Regions from separate parts of the Homo sapiens genome. Here region 1 is linked to region 2. The links come from fine-mapping of genetic effects on gene expression. A gene starts in region 2. The other region holds a variant in brackets. All regions are shown on one strand. Distances are between the middles of the regions.

Region 1 (4,403 bases), 85 kb after region 2:
TTAACTTGTTCATGAAAATAGAGTGAGTCATTGAAAAATCAAATCTTTAGTTATGATTAAGTTATTGTTTTTACCTAAACTGGTTCTACCAAACTCACTCTTTAAAGCAGAATCTGGAATTGGCAAGTCTGATGTAATGCTGATCTTACACATATTAGATTAAATGACCTAATAGAACCAGCTACTGCGCCCTTTCTTATCAGAGTAGAAAAACCCATTCTCTGGGTTTACTCCCAGGAAATACATACTCAATGCTCACTCAGACGTTTTATATCATGACGAAAAATCAAGAAAGGGGTGAAGTGGAGCTAGGGAAGGGTTCAATTACGGTGTAAAGAAAGAAGGCTGCCTATTCATGACAATGGAAACTTTGTCTTCCTCTCTTTGTGTTGGAATTTTTATTTTTATTTTTATTTTTATTTTATTTTATTTTATTTTTTAGACAAGGTCTCCTTGTCTCACCCAAGCTGGAGTGCAGTGGTGCAATGATCGCCTGACCTACCTCCACCTTCCAAGAGTAACAGTGCTCCTGCTCCAATGTGACCTTACAAATCTTACATAGATTTCTCTGTGGTCAACTCTAATCAGCAACACTCAGAGACACTCAGTGAAGAAAGCCCTGGGAAACACTATTTAGTTTAGCCCAGGGGAAATTACAAGGCCATGTCACCTTGAAACTGGAACATGAGGAGAGGTGAGGATGGAGCTGCTGCAGCCATGTTGTTACCATAAAGGGAAAGCCCAGAGCTGCTGGGCAGCTTTGTGGAGCCCAGGGATGAAACTAATATAATCAAATATAGGTAGGGGAACTAACAAAACAAGAACAAAACACAAGTTTGATCACACTCTTCAAGCCTTGGATACTGGAATGCCTGAAACTGCCTCCTGGAGTTTTTAGTTGTGAGAGACAAATTCTTTGTGCCTAATCCAGTTTAAAATAGGTTTTCTGACACCAGCTCTCGAAAGACCGATAAATGACAATTTTGATGTAGGGCTGCTGCGTTTGCTCTAGCTGAAGTTTCTTTGGTGTTTTACAAAACAGTCTTAGATAGCATTAAATCCATCCAGGAGATAAGCAAACAACAGTTAATTTGTATCTTTTTATAGATCAGGTAAAGAGAAAGAAGGAAAGATACTGTGTTTTCCATTTGTAAAAAGACCAGGCCAAACACTGTGGCTCATGCCTGTATTCCTAGCACTTGGGAGGCCAAGGTAGGAGGATCGCTTGAGGCCAGAAGTTTGGGACCAGCCTGGGCAACAGCAAAACCCCATCTCTACAAAAAATACAATTAAAAAAAAATTGTTGAGCATGGTGGTGCACATCCGTGGTCCTAGCTACTCAGGAAGCTGAGGCGAGAGGATCACTTAGCCTCAGCACTATTTGCTGCCTCAGGAAATCTTTCTCCCTCAAGTGCAATTCAAGAAGCTAGTTTTCTGAGTCCTTAGTATGAGACTGGCAATGGGCCTGCTTTTCTATAAACTTCTGCAATAAATCAAATGATAAGTAAATGGAACTTCACTGGCAATATCTGCTCTCTACATACCACTTTACGAATTGCTGATGACATGACAAAACCACCTACAACCCCATCAAGGCCACAGGGGCACCTGGCCTAAGAGGACCAGAGGCAGATCTCCTGTGACTTCAATTACTCTCAAGCAGGACCTATAATGTAGTAGATGCACTTCACCTACTGCTAGAAAGAAGCTGAGGGGAAGAGAGGGACAGAGAAGGAGTTCCCAGAATGCTTGATTGTGAAAATTGTAAGGTTAGAATCGAGTGTCATGACCTGCTGGTGAAAAACAACCATGGCAAATTCCTTCAAACATTTCCTGAATGAAACTAGGAAAGCGGGGTCCAAGCTCAGTGGTATTTCACCTTTCTCAGCCATCTGACTTTTCACTGGAGATCTTTATCTCTTCTTTTGTCTGAGTAATAACCCCAAAATGTTGCCCAAGGGGAAAGTAGAACAGCAACAGCAATTGAAGGGAATTACATGATTCCAAGACATCATCAAAAAATAGGGCAAAATGTAAAGGGATACCACCAACAATGGTGGTGTGTTTGTTCTTTTTTAAAATACCTAACAG[C/G]TTTATTAAGATATAGTCAACATGTCATAGAATTAATCCTGTCTTTTTATTTTTAGGAGCCCATGATCATTTTTTCCTTAATATATAGTTCCTGTTTAATGTTTGTTCAACTATATTCATAATTTGCTGTACATAGAGAAATGCTCTTTGGGATGAAATTGGATATTAGGTTTTTCAAGGTTGAATGGAACGGTGTGGGTTGTGGCAAAATAAGAGATTAGTGATCAAGGTTATTTAAAAGAGGAAGATAAGTAAGTACTTGATATTACATTCCTAAATCTATTTTCAAGTGATTTCACTGATAGTTTAGAAGAAAAAGGAAAATCAAATATCCTTTCACGCTGTTAGAAAAGCTCTATATTTCTTTCTATTTTGATTGCTGAGAAGTTACTGTATGCTTAGGAATAAGAGTCCAGGTTCCAGTGAAACAGGTGCAAACCCACTGCATGTAATTAATCCACCCACCCTGGGTTCCTGTCTCGAGCAAAGTTTTAAATCCATCTTTAATGAGAGCTCTGTTTTGACCACTTAGTATATTCTGTGTTTATCTAGTAAAAAACTGCATTACTGTAGTCCCCCATTATCTGTGGTTTCACTTTCCATGGGTTCAGTTACCTGTGGCCATCCCCGTTCTGAAAATATTACATCACTACTCTTGTACGTTGGGGCCAATATTAAGTAAAAAAATGTTCCTTGAACACAAGCACAAGGAAACAGTGACAGTCAATCTGATAACCAAGATAGGTACTAAGTGATGACGGAAAAGGAAAGAGTGAGACTTCATCACACTATTCAGGATGCCATGCAATTTTAAAATTTATGAATTGTTTATTTCTGGAATTTTCCATTTACATCACAATGCCTACCTCATCCGCCTCACTTCATCTCATCATGTAGGCATTGTATCATCTCACATTGTCACAAGAAGGGTGAGTACAATGCAATAAGATATTTTGAGAGAAAGATCATGTTCACGTAACTTTTTTTTTACAGTATATTGTTATATTTGTTTGATTTTATTATTGTTGATTTCTTAAAGCTTTATCATAGGAATGTATGTGTAGGAAAAATTTACACAGGGTTTGGCACCATCAGTGGTTTCAGGCATCAACCTTGGGTCTTGGAATGTATCCCCTGCAGATAAGGGGGATACTGAGTGACTTAGAAAACAGAAATGTTTCTTACAATCCTGGAGGCTAGAAATAAAATCAAGGTTTTGGCAGGGTTGGATTTTTCTGAGGGCCGTGGGGAAGAATATATTTCTGGCCTCTCTCTTTAGTTTAAAGATGGCCGTCTTCTCCCTGTATCTTTACATGCTCTTCCTTTTATGAGTGTGTCAATGTGTCATGTCCTTTTCTCTTTAGGACACCAGTCATACTGGATTAGCGCCCACCTAGTGACCTCATTTAAGTTACCTCTTGAAAGACACTACCTCTAAATATGGTTACATTCTTAGGTACCAGGGGTTAGCACTTCAACGTGAACTTGAGGGAGGGTACAATTCAGCCCATAATAAAAATTATTTAGTCAGGTTTTTTTTGTTACTAAAACCAACTACTTCGTTCAAATGCATGTTAAACAATCCTGCAATGAGCCTTTTAAAATTTCTGCCCCCTTATTTCTCTATCACCAGAAAATCCTCAATGCCTGAGAAATGAGGGACATTCCAAAGCCACGGATTGATCTGAAATACAGTAAGATGATAGAACTACGCAGCTGGAACTGCCATTGTTCTTTTAATTCAGGCATGATAAAGAGTCAAACTCTGCTTATGGGAACTAATGGTAAACAACATTGGTGTAGGTAATACAAGTTCCAGCCCAGCCTGGGCAACATAACAAGACTTCATCTCTAGAAACAATAACAAACAAAACAAATAAATAAAAAATAAGCTTATTTAATACTCCTAACCTACAGAACATCGTAGCTTAGCCTAGCCTACCTTAAGAGTGCTCAAAACACTTATATTAGCCTACAGTTGAGCAAAATCATCTAACACAAAGCCTATTTTATAATAAAGTGTTGAATAGCTCAGATAATTTATTGAATACTATACCGAAAGTGAAAAACAGAATGGTTGTATGGGTACTTACTCAAAGTCTGGCTTCTAATGAATGAGTATTGCTTTCCCACCACTGTGAAGTCAAAAAAATCGTAGGTCGAACTCGTAAATAAATTGAGGACTGTCTGTTCATACTTGTAGATAATTTCCCTTGGGTTTTCATTGCTGCCAGTATAGGATTTAAGTGCTGCAGAAAAGGAATACTCTTTTTTCTGGTGGGGAACTGTGAAGACAGTCTAAGAACAGATTG
Region 2 (4,403 bases):
TCACCACAAGAGTGAGTTCTCTTCTGTCCCTGCTTCTTTGTGTCAGCAGTTCCTAATTCCTGGTCCCAGATAGCCATGTCTGATTGCCATTCTAAGTGCTTTGCCTCTCCCTTATCTACAAGCGCAGCTGGGACAGTGAGTCATTGGGATTTCAGCTTCTATGTTGGTTGTGACCATTGCGTAAGTCAGTACAAGAAACATGGTAGGGGTAAGGAGGTCAGAAGAGACTTTCTTAAGGAAGTGATCCTGAGCCATGTGCTGAGGATGAGCTAAGGCCCCAACTTTACATAGCTGGTGATACTCACACAAGCAGGCTAAGGGGCCTCCAGTCCTTATGACATAATTAGAGGAGAGCTGGGAGGAATTTCCAGACAACAGCCACCTTCACCAGCCAGCCCTTTTGTCTGATGGTCCACACAAAACTCATTGTATGAGTCAGCAGGATCTAGAAGGTTCACTTCCTCCACAGTGGCCGACAGCTAGAAGACACAGCAGAGCATGTGGGGACCAGGAGAATCCCATAGAGGCAGAGGTGTGAGGAACTAGCAACTGTGGAAAGAATTCCCTTCCCTGAGGGAGGAGATCAGTGGTTAAGAACTATTTAAATAGTCCAAAGTGCACAGTTTAATCTTTAGAGCCCGTAGATTAGATAATAGGAGAAGGGATCCATAAATGCTGGAGCTGATAATCAAAAATCATAGATAGAGGTAGGGCCAGGTTTCCAGGACCATGGGACTGAGGACTCTAGGGAGCCCAGTCCTTGGGGAGCTGTTAGAAAGGCAAGTGCACAGCAGGGATTGGAGCTGGTAAACAGTGAGTGCTGACCCACTAGGGCTTTCATTTCGGGTACTGTCAAGGGTTCAATTGCTAGATTTAATGCTTTGCCTTTCTGCAAATAAAGGCTGTGGGAGCCACACCAGACCAGACTGCAGGGGGATTCTGATAACAGTACTCATGCATGGCATTTAGGTAGCTTTTTAAATGTAAATGTTTTCCGGGAGACATAAAGATGGCATTAGGCATTAACACACACACACCTTAGAGTTAACATCTCAGTTATTTTATGTGTTGATTGTTTATCACAAACATCTACTTGTACATTAATGAGTTAATGAAGTAGGGATACAATGAGGCCTTGCCTTCAAATAGGAATGTAAGACTGCATAGGTACACACACACCCATGTAAACCAATGAAATGAGATATACAATGTGTTATGAGAGGAGCAGATGCAATATTATGAAATTGATTAGGAGGAAGAGAATAACTCAGATTAAGACAAACTGAGAAGGACATCTTGAAGAGTGTTTTTCATTGAGCTTTGGAAAAAATGAAATCTCTGAACATTTCAAGATGAGCAAAAATGGTTTCAGGGAGGAGAAATGCCATGCAGAATGCCCTCTGTAGGGTTTGGGGAAATTAAGAACCATTTGTTTTGGAAATAATATAATGACATAAAGGAAAGCTAGGTTCTAGTAGAGAGTTGAGGAACCTGTGACAAAAAGAAACAGAACAGCTCAGTTTGGATTGTGGGATGAGTCAAGGGGAAACTTCAAAGGGAATCTGGGTGGATTAGGTGATCTGGCAGCATGAAGCCAGGGATGCATCAGGGAGGAAGGGGTGGTTAGAACAGTAGGAGAGAAAGTGCAGAAAAGGGAAAGGAAACTTTTTCTTTGTCACCATTCTGCCATCTACTTACATTAGATGAATCCTTCTATTATGTTTCTGAACCCAGACCCAGCCAGGACTTGTCTCTATTCATTTTCTGGGCTGTGTCTAACAGGAGATAATAGGCTAGAGAGAGATGCTGTATGAACAAATAGAGAAACACATTTGTTTTAAACATTCTCTGTTGCTGATGTTGGAAAAAAATGTGAAACAATTATTGCACATTTCATTTCACTAAGTTTTACCTTTTTTCCCCTTTCCCCTAATTTTCTCTTTCTTGAATTTTGAACAAAATACACAGAAGGAAAACACAAAACACAGAAATGGAAAGTAAAATGGAAGAAAATATCAAGAAAACTTTATTCTTGCTTATATTTTAAAAGGCACATTTTAAAGTGTTATCTTAAAAATCCAGAGCATTTTAGAAGATGAAATGCCAAAAGGTCTCCATTATGTCTATATGTCTATGTCTTTGAGTGACAATCACAGTGCTGATGTAGAGGGAAAGGGGGAACTAGTTAGACACTGTCACTCACCTGGGAAGGCTTTATTCACCTGTTCCACAGGGCAGTGAGGCACCTTCAGCTCTGAATCACCGAAAGAGAATCTGGTGGGGCAAGTTCCAGCTGCATGAGGATTTGCTTGCATAAATATTTTTTACTTATTGCTAACACTGAGGGTGCCTTCTTACTCCCTGGCAAACATTAAACCACTTTTATTTCCTTTCATGGAAATAAGATTATATTTACAGATGGTTCTTAGATATACTCACCTGATTTTTTTTTAATTGCTTTTCCACCTGCTTCCCCTTTCTTCTTAGGGTGAAACTCTAGCCATACGCCCTCTTCTGGTTTCGGGTGAGGAGCCTGAATTGTGGGTATCGTAGTTCTCTTGCCTTTTGGGGTTTCTAGTTGGGCAGCTTTGGAGCCACAGTGGTAGAACTTCAAGTCCCAGGTGGCTCAGGAAGCAGGGGTGCAGTTGCCTGCCTGCATACGGAGCAAGGCATGTTTGAAGAGTACCCGGGTTTGGTAGAGTGACTTCTATTCACTAAAACCATGTGTCTGAACTGAAGAAGCTTGGGCTCACTTCCACAAATGTAAGTGCTGATTTTTTAAAAATAATATTCCTTTCACTATTGATATGTGCTACACACTAGGAAGTTGTATAATTTCCAGAAAAATGTAACAAACCAGCTGCTTAACAAATCAAGCCCTGCTTAAATAAAGGGAAGGTAACTGGTATTCTGTGGGCTTATGGGACATGTGTTAGAATAAACCTCATGACATAGAATAGAATAATACCTTGAGACATGGTTTAGAATAAAGTAGTTTATTTTAAAAAAAAGGAGGAACCCAGGTCACATTAACCATCAAAGGCAAAAACAAAACACTCTATGAGTTGCTTAAAATATGTAGATGGCTGAAATCCCCTAAAAACTTTAAATATCTCAAAAAGCATACAGGTATGTTAAAAAGACTGTGCTTTGAAGATAGATAAAGTTGCAATCAGCAGCCCCACTGCTTATTAGATTTATGACCATTGACAAGATGTTTCACCTCGCAAAGTCTCAGTTTCCTCATCTGTAAAGTGTGTGTGCATAACCTACCTCATTAGGTTAATAGCATTAAATTATGAATAAAAGATAATCATGTAATTAAGTTAAGGGGGTCATTAAATTAGCACAGTGCATTGTACTGAATAGACAGATGATACATGATGGAGGGTAACTTGGCTTCATCCTAATTAAGTTTCAATTAAGCTTGGAAAACACACCAAAGAAACAAAAAGACAAATACTGGATGATTCAACTTACCTGAGGTATCTGGAGTAGTCAAACTCACATAAATGATACTTAGAATGGTAGTTGCCAGGGGCTTGGGGGAAGGAGAAATGAGAGTTGTTTAATGGATATAGAGTTTCAGTTTACAAGATGAAAACACTTGGAGACTGTACAATAATGTAAATATATTTAATACTATTGAACTTAAAATTTGTAAGTGTAAACACTTACAAATGGTTAGGATGGTAAATTGTATGTTAAGTTTTTTACCACAATTAATAAAGATAGATTTTAAAAAATTTATTTTTAAGATCAAAAAGCATGTAGTGAAAATTCCAATGCCTTCCATTTATTAAAGGTCTTCCTAATTTCCTAAAAATGTCTTAAGTCTATATTCAGTGGGTCTAATTTAGGATTGATATTGACTTATCTATGTTAATGTCTGGTTTTTACATAGCAATTACTGGGTGATAATGATGAATTTCAGGTATATTCTTAAAGTTGTCTTAACCTCAGTGGTGATTCTTTTATGCCCCCCTGAACTTAATTACATGATTATCTTTTATTCATAATAGCGATTTTTAATATGATTTCATGGGTAGTGTACAGAATCTAGAAATTATGAAGTCATAATTATTAGTTACAATTTGCTTAAAAGCTTTAGTTATGACTCATTTTTAAAACTTAAAGCAAAAATATTATTTATTCCAGTTTTCTCAACTTCCTTGTAGCTAATTTACAAATAGAATATTTTTATCTGTTTGTGTTTTAGAGATAATAAAAACTATTAAGGCAAAGTTTGTTAAACACCATCTTATCTTAAAATGTATTGGCTGATTTGGAGGACAAAAGACATTTTGGAATTATACTAATTTTGAACTTGAAGACATGTCTGTTGAATTTTTAGAGAATTCTTTCTTGAAAGACCACACATATGCCTAGGTGTCTATTAAGAC

Which allele goes with the higher level. Positions count from the first base shown, and alleles are read on the strand shown. Sizes are in standard deviations (SD) of each study's normalised expression.
For the expression in tibial nerve of the gene that starts at base 2,485 in region 2, allele C in region 1 goes with a higher level than allele G (moderate effect, 0.52 SD a copy in GTEx).

The links. PIP is the estimated chance that this variant, and not a neighbour inherited with it, causes the effect. A credible set is the group of variants that fine-mapping cannot tell apart.
Region 1: its variant is the best candidate, but not a certain one, in a credible set for the expression of GIRGL in tibial nerve (GTEx, PIP 0.82).

Annotation. Positions count from the first base shown.
Region 1 is chr7:20,130,295-20,134,697 of GRCh38, reverse strand. The region is part of intron 1 of MACC1-OT1 (MACC1 3' UTR overlapping transcript 1); the gene reads left to right. It overlaps MACC1 (MET transcriptional regulator MACC1), which reads left to right. Exons shown (of 7, transcript NM_182762.4): 7 at 1-43. Among named protein-coding and RNA genes, the nearest start is that of MACC1-OT1, 7.9 kb to the left of the region's middle. The variant C/G (reference allele first, on the strand shown) is at 2,092.
Region 2 is chr7:20,215,659-20,220,061 of GRCh38, reverse strand. GIRGL (glutamine insufficiency regulator of glutaminase lncRNA) reads right to left here and starts at 2,485. Exons shown (of 4, transcript NR_134569.1): 1 at 2,440-2,485; 2 at 1,699-1,806; 3 at 306-479. It overlaps MACC1 (MET transcriptional regulator MACC1), which reads left to right and starts at 2,678. Exons shown (of 7, transcript NM_182762.4): 1 at 2,678-2,763. RefSeq lists enhancers at 1-74, 1-168, 85-234, 1,654-2,853.